2 linked regions of the Homo sapiens genome follow. The main gene of each other region encodes a partner of the protein of the gene in region 2 in a complex. Each region holds a gene or a part of one and is shown on either strand. Other genes may lie near its edges. A codon is read from its position in the direction of its gene.

Region 1 (6,911 bases), on a different chromosome or scaffold from region 2:
TGAGGCCCGCTTACATCCTCACATCCTTGAGGGTCATGTCCTGTTTTTAAAGTCAAGCAACTGTAGACGTGCTAACCTAACCGCATCAACATAATAACTTCACAGCAACACCTAGATTAGTGTTTAGTTGAATAACTAGGTTCTAGAGCTTAGCCACGCTGACACAACAAACAACTATAACAGCTTTTCCAAGTTAAGAGCCCAATATCTGCTGAAGTTGACGCAGAGGCCATTTTTTCAGTAATATTCTGAAGTTCTCAGTGAGTGTTCAGGTCACAGTACCATGTCCATTAGGAGAGAGTTACTGGGTTTGTTTGTTTGTTTAATTTCCTGGCTCCTAGAACTGATTAAAAAAAAAAAAATTAAAACTTCCCGAACTGGCTGGGCGTGGTGGCTCACGCCTGTAATCCCAGCACCTTGGGAGATCAAGGCGTGTTGATCACCTGAGGTCAGGAGTTCAAGACCAGCCTGGCCAACATGGTGAAACCCCATCTCTACTAAAACTACAAAAATTAGCCAGGCATGGTCGCAAGCACCTGTAGTCCTAGCTACTTGGGAGGCTAAGGCAGGAGAATCACTTGAACCCAGGAGGCGGAGGTTGCAGTGAGCTGAGATCGTGCCACTGCACTCCAGCCTGGGCTACAAGAGTGAAACTCCATCTCAAAACAAACAAACAAAACTTCCTGAACATGACCCAGGCTTACTCAAGGAGGGGAGAGTTCCCAGCTCTAACACTGACCCCAAGCACAAAGACATCCCTTCCGCAGTGTTTTTAGCAAAATGTTCCCCTCCAGTGTGTCAAGAAACTTTTATTATTATTATTATTATTATTATTATTATTATTTTGAAACTCTCACTCTGTCACCCAGTCTGGAGCACAGTGGCACGATCTTGGCTCACTGCAACCTCTGCCTCTCGGGTTGAAGCGAGTCTCATGCCTCAGCCTCCAGCGTAGCTGGGATTACAGGCACCTGCCACCGCACCCGACTAATTTTTGTATTTTTAGTAGAGACGGGGTTTCACCACGTTGGCCAGACTGGTCTCGAACTCCTGACCTCAGGTGATCCACCTGCCTCAGCCTCCCAAAGTGCTGGGATTATAGGCGTTGAGTCACCGTGCCTGGCCTATGGCAAGAAACTTTAGAACAACCAGAAAGGCCCACCCAGAGCCATGTTAAAGCCTTTGGAGGCTGCTGCACTTGTAATTCTAAATTAAATTTATATTATAAAATACTAGTTTATAAAGTCACAAGCTCTGAGTTTTTCCCCATAATGCTCCTGATAGTTATTTATATAATTTTTTTATGGGGAGGTTCAGGATCTCACTGTCATCCAGGCTGGAGAGCAGTGGCACAATCATAGCTGACTGCAGCCTCAAATTCCTGGGCTCAAGCTATCCTCCTACCTTGGTCCACTGAGTAGCTGGGACTACAGGCTCACATCATTGCACCCGGCTAATTTTTTTTATTTTTAATTTTTTGTATAGATGGGGTCTCACTATGTTGCCCAGGCTGGAACTCCTGGCCTCAAAAGATCCTCCCACCTCACCTTCCCAGAATGCTGGGATGACAGGCGTGAGCCACTGTGCCCAGCCTAGTAACTTTTTAAAAAATATCAAGTTCTCTCTCCCCATAATTGCTTCAGGACCCCTGCTCAAGTATGGTTCTCGATGTCTAGGGAATTTCAGCCCCATCCTCCCGGGTTGTCCAGTTCTAGTCCAGAGTTCTTGCTGATGCAGTTACCTCAGAGATCATTGAGTGGGCCAAGAGAACCAGATCTGCCTGCTGGATGCTCCTGATAGTTATTTATGTAACTATCCGCCATGATGCTCCTGATAGTTATTTATGTAACTTTTTTATGGGGAGGCTGAGGGTCTCACTGTCACCCAGGCTGGAGTGCAGTGGCACAATCATAGCTGCCTGCAGCCTCAAATTCCTGGGCTCAAGAGATCCTCCCGCCTCAGGAGGCAGGAGGATGGTCTTCTTCTTCAGGAGTCCCTGTCTGCCCAGGGGCAGCTGTCACTGGAATCTTTTAGCTGCCAGGAATGAGGTGATGGCTGAAGAGCCCACCACTAAGAAAATGGTTAGTCACCCCTTTGACAATGCTTCCTTTGTGCCATGCCTGCTCTGAGCACTTTGCAAATGTTGACTCATATAAACTTCAAAGCCCTCATGATGTGGGCACAACTGCTATCCTCATTCCTCATTGTGCAGATGAGGAAGCTAAGGCCAGCAAAGGCCTAGTAACTAACCCAAGGTTACCCAGCCGGGAAATGCTGGAGCTGGGAATGAAGCCCAGCTGTCTGGTTCCAGAGCCAGTGTTACATGGCTCTGACCTCCCAGGCAGTTCTTCCAGGAACCTCCCCCACTTCCCTGGGCCCTTCCCAGGTGGAACCCCTTTCTGAGCCTCCTTTTCCCATCAGCTCTGTCCTTGACAGAGGCACCCCAGACTTTCAGAGCCAAACGCGATCGTGTTGCCTACAATTGAGGAAACAGAGGCCTTGAAAGGTGTGTGACACACCTATGTCCCCCCAAATTATAAAGGTAGTTGGGGAAGAAAAAGAAGCACGTGTGTAAGAACGGGGAATATTTATGAGGTTCTCACTGCGTTCCAGGCACTGGGGACCCAGTGCAGACAGGACCTGGCCCCTGCCCAGGTGGCGATGTCAGACTGGGAGGGAAGACACATTGAAAGCCAAGAGACAAGATAAATTTCAAATTTAGCGGCAAGTGATCTTGAGAGGGCAGTAAAGGGAAGAAGGCGGGACTGGGAGGACCTTGGGAGATGCGCTTCCGTCCAGATCCTCACCTTGCTTTAGGAGGTGAGAACAGAGGCAGTCTTCCGTCCCAAAATCCTTCTCCCCACGGTTGGGAGAATAGCGCTGGTGGGTTTTTTGTTCATTTTACTTTATTTTACTTATTTTATTTATTTATGAGACGGAGTCTCGCTCTGTTGCCGAGGCTGGAGTGCAACGGCCGGATCTCGGCTCACTGCAACCTCCGCCTCCCCGATTCAAGCTATTCTCAGGCCTCAATCTCCTGAGTAGCTGGGATTACAGGTTCGTGCCACCAACGCCCGGGTAATTTTTATATTTTTAGCAGAGATGGGGTTTCACCATGTTGGCCAGGCTGGTCTCGAACTCCTGACCTCAAGTGATCCGCCCGCCTCGGCCTCCCAAAATGCTGGGATTACAGGCGTGAGCCACCGCGCCCGGCCTGTTTGTTAATCTTAAATAGAAACGGAGTCTCCTTATGTTGCCTAGGCTGGTCTCCAACTCCTAGGCTCAAGAGATCCTCCTGTCTTGGCCTCAGGAAGTGATGGGATTACAGGCATGAGGCTCCGCGCCCGGCCTGATAGGTTCTCTTATTGCCATGTTGTAGATAGAAGGGGGCCCCTGGGTTAGGCAGACACAGGTTAGGTAGTTCGTCCGGCGTCACCGGGCGGGAGCCCACCGCAGGCCCCACGAGACAAGGGCGAGCAGGTTCATCGCCTCCCGGGGAAAGGACTGGGTAGTCCCAGGCCCCACCCCTTCCTGGAACAGCAAGTTCGCTGTGGGTCCCGACCTACTGACCCAGGCGGAGGGCGGGACGCAGGGTAGCTGGGGCCGCGTAGAGAGGGAAAGAAGGTCGCGATTGGCTCGTCCCGAAAGGTGGGCGGGGCCTCCTCCGACCTGTGCGCGCGCGCCGCGGGGAGGTGTTGCCGAGGGCGGAGCGGGAGGGGGCGTGGCCCCGCGCGGGCGGCCGTTGACGGCGAGGCCCCGCCCCGGATGTCGCGTGTCGCTGAAAGGGCGGCGGCGATTGGCCGGCGCCGCGGGGGCGGGCGGGGCGGAAGGTTCTGGAGGGGGCTGGCGGGCTCTGGAAGCTTCCGCCGGACGGGTATATAGAGTCCGGGACTGGTCGGCGGCGGAGCCGGGGGACGGCGACAGCGGGTCGGCGGGCCGCAGGAGGGGGTCATGGGTAAAGACTACTACCAGACGTTGGGCCTGGCCCGCGGCGCGTCGGACGAGGAGATCAAGCGGGCCTACCGCCGCCAGGCGCTGCGCTACCACCCGGACAAGAACAAGGAGCCCGGCGCCGAGGAGAAGTTCAAGGAGATCGCTGAGGCCTACGACGTGCTCAGCGACCCGCGCAAGCGCGAGATCTTCGACCGCTACGGGGAGGAAGGTGTGTGCTCGCGGCCAGGGGCGCGGCCCCGCCTTTTGACAGACAGGGAAACTGAGGCACGCTGGCCCCTCTCGGCGGCCCCCCGGGAAGGACGCCCCGGGCCGTGGGGCCGAGCTGCCCCGCCCTCCGGCCTCGCGGGCCTCCGCCCTCGGATTGGCGGCCGCGCGGTGGGAGGAGGAGCCTTGGCCCAGCCGCTCGGCCAGAAGCTTCTAGCATGTCTGGGGCTGCCCCTCCCCGGGCGCCTCCTCCCGCGGCCCCGAGCAGCCCCGGGGTGCGGTGCATGGGGGTGGGGGAGCCGGGGGTGACGACGGGGACGGCGCGGCGGAGCCCGCTGCGGACCCGGGCTCACCTGGGCTCGGCCGCCGGGGTCCGCGGGGCGGCGCCTCCGGCTCAGCTGCGGGGCGAGGGGTTGTGAATGCAGGAGCCGACCCCGTTCGTGGGCTTGGGGGCTGGGTTGGGATAATTCCCGGGAAGTGATGACCTGGCCCCGGCAGGGCACGCAGGAGGCAGCGGCCGCCCAGGTCCGGAGAGCGGGGCCGCCTCGGAGGGTAAGGAGAGCAGGGCTTTTTGTTCCTGTGCCCGTTGATGATTCAGGCTGGCTTCTGGGCTTGATCTGGAGCTGACTTTTTGTGCAAGGATGGTGGCAGTGAATGCTAATGTGTGAGGATTTAAAAACTCCCTATTTATTTTTGTTTTTTTTTTTCTTCTCTTCCTACGCACCATTAGCCCTAAAACGTTGAGAGTAAACACTTACCGAAAGCCGACCCTGGACCATGTGTCTTTAGCCATCTCTTGGTGATGTTGCCAGGAGGATGGGTCAGTCCAGGAGTGGCAGGGCCTAGGTGGCACCTGGAGGTGAACACCTAACCGCATGAGTCCTTTTCCACTGTCAGGCTACGCGGAAATACTGTTGGTAGGGGGGCGTCTCTGCTGTTGGCAGTGAGAGGTAGAAACTTGGGGTTCTTCCTTGCTCTCCCCTGACAGACAAAAAAGTTCCTCCCCCATGGCTTCCAAGCTGTTTCCCCCTGTAAGGGAAGCTCGAGAGAGAGTCTGCTGTTCAGCCATCTGACTGCTTCTAAATCTGCTTTTCAGGCCTAAAGGGGAGTGGCCCCAGTGGCGGTAGCGGCGGTGGTGCCAATGGTACCTCTTTCAGCTACACATTCCATGGAGACCCTCATGCCATGTTTGCTGAGTTCTTCGGTGGCAGAAATCCCTTTGACACCTTTTTTGGGCAGCGGAACGGGGAGGAAGGCATGGACATTGATGACCCATTCTCTGGCTTCCCTATGGGCATGGGTGGCTTCACCAACGTGAACTTTGGCCGCTCCCGCTCTGCCCAAGAGCCCGCCCGAAAGAAGCAAGATCCCCCAGTCACCCACGACCTTCGAGTCTCCCTTGAAGAGATCTACAGCGGCTGTACCAAGAAGATGAAAATCTCCCACAAGCGGCTAAACCCCGACGGAAAGAGCATTCGAAACGAAGACAAAATATTGACCATCGAAGTGAAGAAGGGGTGGAAAGAAGGAACCAAAATCACTTTCCCCAAGGAAGGAGACCAGACCTCCAACAACATTCCAGCTGATATCGTCTTTGTTTTAAAGGACAAGCCCCACAATATCTTTAAGAGAGATGGCTCTGATGTCATTTATCCTGCCAGGATCAGCCTCCGGGAGGTAAGGTGCCAGGTGGGGCGGTGTCTGTAGAGGGCGATGGCTGCTTTTTGAAGCAGTTTAGTATTTGCTGAACCAATGTGTTGGGGTGTGTGGTGCGTGCCAGGCTTGGGGCACAACAGTGAACAGGACTGACCAGGGCGCTGTTGTGGAGCTTTCGTGGTGGGGACGTGTAGATTTGGGGGCCAGGTCTTAGCTGCAGAGGCCTGATGGGTCTTATCTATGGCAGACGGCCTCTGGGCAAGAGCTGAGCCTCTTGAGCCAGCTTCCATCTAATGCTGTCCTTTTGCTTTTCAAGGCTCTGTGTGGCTGCACAGTGAACGTCCCCACTCTGGACGGCAGGACGATACCCGTCGTATTCAAAGATGTTATCAGGCCTGGCATGCGGCGAAAAGTTCCTGGAGAAGGCCTCCCCCTCCCCAAAACACCCGAGAAACGTGGGGACCTCATTATTGAGTTTGAAGTGATCTTCCCCGAAAGGATTCCCCAGACATCAAGAACCGTACTTGAGCAGGTTCTTCCAATATAGCTATCTGAGCTCCCCAAGGACTGACCAGGGACCTTTCCAGAGCTCAAGGATTTCTGGACCTTTCTACCAGTTGTGGACCATGAGAGGGTGGGAGGGCCCAGGGAGGGCTTTCGTACTGCTGAATGTTTTCCAGAGCATATATTACAATCTTTCAAAGTCGCACACTAGACTTCAGTGGTTTTTCGAGCTATAGGGCATCAGGTGGTGGGAACAGCAGGAAAAGGCATTCCAGTCTGCCCCACTGGGTCTGGCAGCCCTCCCGGGATGGGCCCACATCCACCTCCAGTCCCTGGCCAGGGGTGAGAGGCAGACCAGCAGATGGACTTGATCCCTCTGTGTCTTTTTGCTTCTGGCTGGTAGATAATGTCAACCTGCAGTCTTGATTCCCAGACCCTGTACACTCCTCCTTTTCTGTTGTGTGATCAGTTTGTGCTTTATTCTGTATTTGTCTCCCATGTCTTGCTCTTCTCCTGGAGAATTCTGTCTTCTCTTTGGCCATCTCAAATTGAGAACCTAAACTATTCCTGCAGAACTGCCTGGTTGGCGTCCA
Region 2 (6,827 bases):
TTATGAGGGTCACTACTCCCAGTCCTTCCTAGAGCTAATGAATGTGTACACACACACACACACACACACACACATTTACAATTATATTTATTTCTATAATTATACATACTAAACAACATGAATTCAGACTATCATCTCCAATTCCAAGCTCATATCATGGGGTTCATTCTAGTTTTTGCCCCTTGTGTATTTATACTTCCTGTCTTTCACACCGAGGAATCTGGTGTCCATTATTCTTGATTTATCTTTTTTTTTTTTTTTTGAGACAGGGTCATGCTGTATCCCCCAGCTGCTGGAGCGCAGTGGAGTGATCTTGACTCACTGCAACCTCTGCCTCAGGGTTCAAGTGATTCTTTTTTTTTTTTTTTTTTTTGAGACGGAGTCTCACTGTCACCCAGGCCCAGAGGCCCAATCTCGGCTCACTGCAACCTCCGCCTCCCAGGTTCAAACAATTCTCCTGCCTCAGCCTCCTGAGTAGCTGGGACTACAGGCGCCTGCCACCAAGCCCAGCTGATTTTTCGTATTTTTTAGTAGAGATGGGGTTTTACCATTTTGGCCAGGCTGGTCTCGAACTCCTGACCTCATGATCTGCCCGCCTTGGCCTCCCAAAGTGCTGAGATTACAGGCATGAGCCACCGCACCCAGCTTTTTTTTTTTTTTTTTTTGAGATGGAGTTTTGCTCTTCTTGCCCAGGCTGGCGTGCAATGGCACAATCTCGGCTCGCTACAACTTCCACCTCCCAGATTCAAGAGATTCTCCTGCCTCGGCCTCCCAAGTAGCTGGGATTACAGGTTCCCACCACTATGCCTGGCTAAGTTTTTGTATTTTTAGTAGAGATGGGGTTTCACCATGTTAGGCAGGCTGGTCTCGAACTCCCGACCTCAGGTGATCCACCTGCCTCAGCCTCCCAAAGTGATAAGATTACAGGCGTGAGCCACTGCACCCAGCCTAAGTGATTCTTCTACCTCAGCCTCCCGTGTAGCTGGGATTACAGGCGCACACCACCACACCCAACTAATCTTTGTATTTTTAGTAGAGATGGTGTTTCACCATGTTGGCCGGGCTGCTCTTGAACTCTGGGCCTCAAGTGATCCACTTGCCTCGGCCTCCTAAAGTGCTGGGATTACAGGCATGAAATACCACATCCAGCTACTTTTTTTTTTTTTCCTTTGTTTGAGACAGGGTCTGGCTTTGTCACCCACGCTGAAGTGCAGTGGCGTGATCACAGCTCACTGCAGCCTTGACCTCCCAGGCTCAAGTGATTCTCCCATCTCAGCCTTCTGAGTAGCTGGGATTACAGGCTCCCACTGCCATGCCCCGCTAATTTTTTTTTTTATACTTTGAGTTCTAGGGTACATGTGCACAACGTGCAGGTTTGTTACATATGTATACATGTGCCATGTTGGTGTGCTGCACCCATCAACTCGTTATTTAACTCCGCTAATTTTTAAATTGTTTTGTAGAGACAGGGTTTTGCTGTGTTGCTATGTTTTGCAAGTGTTGGGATTACAGGCATGAGCCTCCGCAGTCGGCCTGGATCTGCTTCTTGTTCCACACATAAACTTGTTTCTTTCACTGCTCACATACTTCCAGTTGTCCTGGGAATCATTTATATTGGGATAAGACTTCTGATCCTGTACAGCAAGGGTCATGAGGTACAGCAAATGGTAGGAATATTCCTGGAAGCCCTTTCCACACACCAGGACAGCTCACAATGACTTAACTATACACAAAAGTGACTGCCAGCCACCCAGCTATATCCCACCAAATCAATCCAAACTGAGTGTATTTCCAACTCAACTTCACCTTAGCTGGATCACCAAATCCTCATGGCATCTCTGATATCACCTGATTCAAGGGAAAGTGAGATAGAGTGGGAAGAAATAGTAGTCTTAACCAATTGCAATTTTAGAATTTTGCTTTTGCATGTTAAAAGAAAAAAAAATATGTATTTGACGCTATGAAGACATTGCTGGGGTTGCTCCCAGTGCCTAGGATGGGCCCGTGCAAGTGCAAGGCCCTGCCCTCAAGAGCCCTCAGTCTGAGGGAGAAGACACAGATCAACTCCAGGAATCTCTAATCTAAAGGGAGAAGTCTCTAGTCTGAAGTGGGGAACACGCAATTCCAACCAAAAGAGAAACCTAAAGGAAAAAAGGAAAGAAGAAGGCGTCAACTGTGTCAAATGCACCTGAGAAGTTGAGTAAGATAATAGTGGTTCATTGGCTTTGGCAATATGTAGCACTGTAACCATATCAGAGCCTTTAAAAAATAGACTAGAACAGGCCGGGCGCAGTGGCTCATGCCTGTAATCCTAGCGCGTTGCGAGGCCGAGGCAGGTGGATCACTTGAGGTCAGGAGTTTGAAACGAGCCTGGCCAACATGGTGAAAACCCCTCTACTAAAAATACAAAAAAAAATTAGTTAGGCGTAGTGGTGCCTGTAATCCCAGCTACTTGGGAGGCTGAGAATCACTTAAACCTGGGAGGCAGAGGTTGCAGTGAGCTGAGATCGTGTCACTGCACTCCAGCCTGGGCAACAGAGTGAGACTTGGTCTAAAAAAAAAAAGAAGAATAGATAGACTAGAATATACTGTAGAGAGATGGGAGGTGAGGGAGTAGAAAAACAAGCAAACAAGTTTGCTGCAAATGAGAGCTGAAAATTGGAGAGGTAGCAGCAGAAGAAAGTGGGGCCATGGAATAATAATATAAAAACAGGGCTGGGCATGGTGGCTCACACCTGTAATCCCAGCACTTTGAGAGGCTGAGGCAGGAGGAGTGCTTGAGACCAGGGTTTGAGACTTAGCCTGGGCAACACAGACTCCATCTCTACCAAAAAACAAAAAACAAAAAACAAAAAAAAAAAAACAGCAGGGCGTGGTGATGTGAGCCTGTAGTCCCAGCTACTCTGGAGGCTGAAGTGGGGAAGATGGCTTGAGTCCAGGAGTTCAAGGCTGCCGTAAGCCAAGATGGTGCCACTGCACTCCAGCTTGGGTGACAATGCAAGAACCCCATCTCTAAAAACAAACAAAAAGATATTAAAGCGTGTTTGTAAATTGAAGGGAAGAAGAAAGATATTTGTGATGCATAAGCTAAAAAAAGGGATAATTAACAGGGATAGAGTTCCTGAAAAGACTAAGATGATGAGATTCATTGCACAAGTGGAGGGATTAGCTTGGATGGCTGGGTCCTGTCCCCGCATTAACAGAAGTGAAGGTCAATTTCAGCACCTGTCATAATTTCCTGGGCCCAGTGCAAAATGAAAATGTGGGTCTCCTTATTCCAAAATTATTAAGAATTTCAAGACTATAACAGAAGGCCATGAAATCAAGCGTGGAGCCTTTCTAAGCCTGGGTGCTGTGCGACTGCAATTTGTACTCCCATGAAGCTGGCCCTAGTCAAGTACGCAGTGAGGTCGATGAGGAGGAGGCTGTCCTGTGGTAAGTCCCTTCTAGGATTGGAAGAGATGAGTAAGGCTACTTTCAGCTTCACTGCTCTACAAGCTGGGGGGGTCGCTAGCAAGGGAGAGGGGCAAAACTTGTCCCTTTTTAACTTCCAACCCTGCCAGATTTGAGTCCAGGGCTTTCTAGAAGTCTCCACGGCATCGGGTGACCATAGCAACTCATGCCAAACTCTCGGGCCCACGGCTCCGCCTACCGCTTCGTGGACGCGCTTGTTGATTGGCTCCGAATGTCGACCAATGGTCGGCGAAGCGGGTTGCTTGCCGCACGGTCAATGGCCGCAAACCGGGAGGAAGGCGGGAAGAGAGGAGGTGGAGGCGGGCCTGGGCAGCCGCGCGCGTGCGTGTTTCCGGCTCCGCTGCGGAAGGCGGACGACTAGAGTCGTTGGGCCCGGCGCGACCCGCAGGAGCGTAGAGAGCGCGGGACTAGAGTGCAGAGCTCCGGGACGTGGATCGGAGCCGGCGCGATGGGCGGAGAGCAGGAGGAGGAGCGGTTCGACGGCATGTTGCTGGCCATGGCTCAGCAGCACGAGGGCGGCGTGCAGGAGGTAACGGCCCGCGCGGCGTCGGCCCACCCGGCGGCCTTGGCCACGCTCCTTCCGCCCTTCTCTGCCTTCGAGGGCTGAGACCCACCCCAGCGGCTCGCGGGCTTCTGGGATGCCCCTACATTCTCACTGCGCCCAGCTTCCGGCCTGGCCACCCGCCAGCAGGTCTCACCCGGTTCGCATCAGTCCCGGGCCCCCGGCGCCCCTCAGTAGTAGCAAATTATCGCATCCCTGAGCTTAGGATCCCCCTTTAGTTTCACATATGCCCCCACCCCCGTTTCCACTTTGATGGCGGCTTCCAAGGAGCATCCCTTAGTAAGAACCGTCGCAAATATCGTGATTTGGATCCACCAAGGCTTGGGGCGAGCCGTCGAATGTGTGTGGTAGGGGAGCGGGCTGATGTTAGCACGTGGTCTTGTTAGGCCTTGAATGGGGGAATAGGAGGCCTGTGTTCACGATTAGTTTCCACCACCTACCAACTTGGAACCTTTACATCTCTCCAAGCCTGAGTTTCCTTATCTGTGAGACAGCTGCGAATACCGGTTTCCAGAGAGTAGTTAAGAACCGTAAGTTCTCAGTAATAAGGCTTTTTCATTCAACAAGTATTTGTCGTGTGATTGATGTGTGTCCCACACTCGACAATAAGGGCCAACTGTTACAGATTCTGGAGTTGGTTTTTTTGGAACAAACACAAAGTTAACGGTAGAAAAGTCTGTCAGGATCAGAACTCTCATTCTCAGAGCCAGAGAAGTGGCAAGGATTTGCCTAGATCATGCAACATGGTTCTCACCTAGACAGGTCAGTGTGCTTCCCAGAGTCCATGGCTGATTGTGTCTTACTGGAGGTAGGTTTCCATTGAACTTTCTATTCCTATGTAACCTAGGTGTCTGGTGACCAAGGACTTCTAAGCCCTTTGTGGTGGGGAGAGTGTTTCTCATTTGCAAGTGTGAAAAGCCTTCCTGTCTCCATTCCTCTAAACTGTTCGCACAAAACTGGATTTGGGAGCGAGTTCATTTTTGAGCAAATTGAAAAACTGTCTAGAAGCAAGAACGGAAACCATTGAGATATGTTCTAGCATCAGATTTAATCAGATTTAGACCCACTCTTGGGCAAATAAAGGGTTTGTGTGTGCTGACCTTGAGTCACCACTAGATTGTTTCATTCAGCAAGAATTTTACTGATTATGTACCTTTAGCCATATCTGGTGCCCAGCATTGCAGGTGGCAGACAGACTAAGCCATGGTTCATGGTTCCTATTTGTAAGGTGTTTACCCTCTGCCAGTGGGTCTCTTGCTCTGTGCCATACATTGCTAAAGGCCTCACCTCCTTGACCTCATGATCCTCACCAGGTCCCTAGAAATAGGTACTGCATCTTATTCCTGTTGTACAGAGTTAAGAAACTTCTGCAAAGTCAAAAGGTAATATATGTCCATCTGATACTCAAACCGTTGGCTACACTTGTACTCCAGCCAGAATTAATCCATCTTATCCTCCTTTGAAGTGGCTTCATTTGCTCTCCTCCTTCTTGCTTTGACCCGGTAACTTAGCCAGTGTCTTTTTTTTTGTTTAGACAAGAGTCTCTCACCCAGGCTGGAGTGCGGTGGCACGATCTTGGCTCACTGCAACCTCTGCTTCCCGGGTTCAAGTGATTCTCTGCCTCAGCCTCCCAAGTAGCTGGGATTACAGGTGCCCACCACCTGTAATCTAGCTAATTTTTGTGTTTTTAGTAGAGACGGGGTTTCACCATGTTGGCCAGGCTGGTCTTGAACTCCTGACCTCAAGTGACCCGCCCACCTGAGCCTCCTGAAGTACTGGGATTATAGGTGTGAGCCAGTGTCTTGATGGGCTTTTTACTTTCTGGAGAGGAAAGCTGGGCCCAGGCTTTTCATGCCCTGGATGCAGAGGAGTGTTCCATACGCTTAGGCTGCTTCTAGCATCACAAGGAAAGTGAAAGGCGCACACACACACAGGATATGAGAAATCTGCTTCATGGTGGAAGTGACTAAGAGAACCTGCTGGGGAGATAATCTCCTCAGTTGGGAAGCTCAGAGGAAAAATAGTCAAGTCCCAAGTTCCCTCCTAGACAAAACAAGTTGACTTGTGTGCAGTTGAAGGGCTCCCAAATGCAGCTCTACTACTTTAATCTTCTCCCCCTCTTTCAGCTTGTGAACACCTTCTTCAGCTTCCTTCGACGCAAAACAGACTTTTTCATTGGAGGAGAAGAAGGGATGGCAGAGAAGGTAAGTGTTGGAAACCACTGTCCTTTGGGCGGCTCTGTCTCTTCAGAAGAAAAGCTCACCTGGCCTTTCTTTGGCATAATAGTAACTTTCAGCAGAAGCGAAATGCCAAAGGTGAGGAATTGGGGAAGGGAAGGAAGCTGTCATTTCTTCAAGCTCCACTCCTTGCTCAGCCCTCTATCTACCTTATTTCCCATGACTTTTGCAGTTCTACAAGAGGGGCAGGTGTTAACTATCCCCATTGAGGAAATTGGCTCAAGAGAATTTTGCACCTTATCCAAAGTCTTGAGCTGAGCTGTGGGAGAACCAGGGTTGAAACCAGTCTGTTGTAAACCTGTCCTCTGCCCCGACACAGTGCCTCTCAGTTCCTTTTCCAATGAGGAGGTTTTATTTATTTATTTATTTTCTGAGACAGAGTCTTGCTTTGTCACCCAAGCTGAAGCGCAGTGGCGCAATGTCGGCTCACTGCAACTTTCGCCTCCTGGGTTCAAGCAATTCTCCTGCCTCAGCCTCCTGAGTAAGTGGGATTACAGGCGCCCGCCACCACACCTGGCTAATTTTTGTATTTTGATAGAGACGAGGTTTCATCA

Evidence for each region. Proteins that work in one complex are often made in the same cells at the same time.
Region 1: the proteins of NUDC (region 2) and DNAJB1 are in contact, whole or in part, in a crystal structure (PDB 7NDX), measured with the Homo sapiens proteins. Residues at the interface, in NP_006591.1 of Homo sapiens: Pro102, Gln103, Ile104, Lys105, Glu106, Leu107, Ala112, Leu115, Gln116, Ile119; in NP_006136.1 of Homo sapiens: His166 (codon at 5,539), Lys181 (codon at 5,584), Lys182 (codon at 5,587), Met183 (codon at 5,590), Lys184 (codon at 5,593), Ile185 (codon at 5,596), Ser186 (codon at 5,599), Asp201 (codon at 5,644), Lys202 (codon at 5,647), Ile203 (codon at 5,650), Ile235 (codon at 5,746), Phe237 (codon at 5,752).

Annotation. Positions count from the first base shown.
Region 1 is NC_000019.10:14,515,390-14,522,300, reverse strand, and holds the start of DNAJB1 (dnaJ homolog subfamily B member 1), read left to right. Parts: upstream 1-3,903; 5' UTR 3,904-3,951; coding exon 3,952-4,162; intron 4,163-4,363; exon of another isoform or gene 4,364-4,710; intron 4,711-5,254; coding exon 5,255-5,835; intron 5,836-6,130; coding exon 6,131-6,361; 3' UTR 6,362-6,911. UniProt on the Homo sapiens protein: Interacts with HSP70 and can stimulate its ATPase activity. Stimulates the association between HSC70 and HIP. Negatively regulates heat shock-induced HSF1 transcriptional activity during the attenuation and recovery phase period of the heat shock response.
Region 2 is NC_000001.11:26,917,927-26,924,753, forward strand, and holds the start of NUDC (nuclear migration protein nudC), read left to right. Parts: upstream 1-3,816; 5' UTR 3,817-3,922; coding exon 3,923-4,003; intron 4,004-6,162; coding exon 6,163-6,240; intron 6,241-6,827. UniProt on the Homo sapiens protein: Plays a role in neurogenesis and neuronal migration. Necessary for correct formation of mitotic spindles and chromosome separation during mitosis. Necessary for cytokinesis and cell proliferation.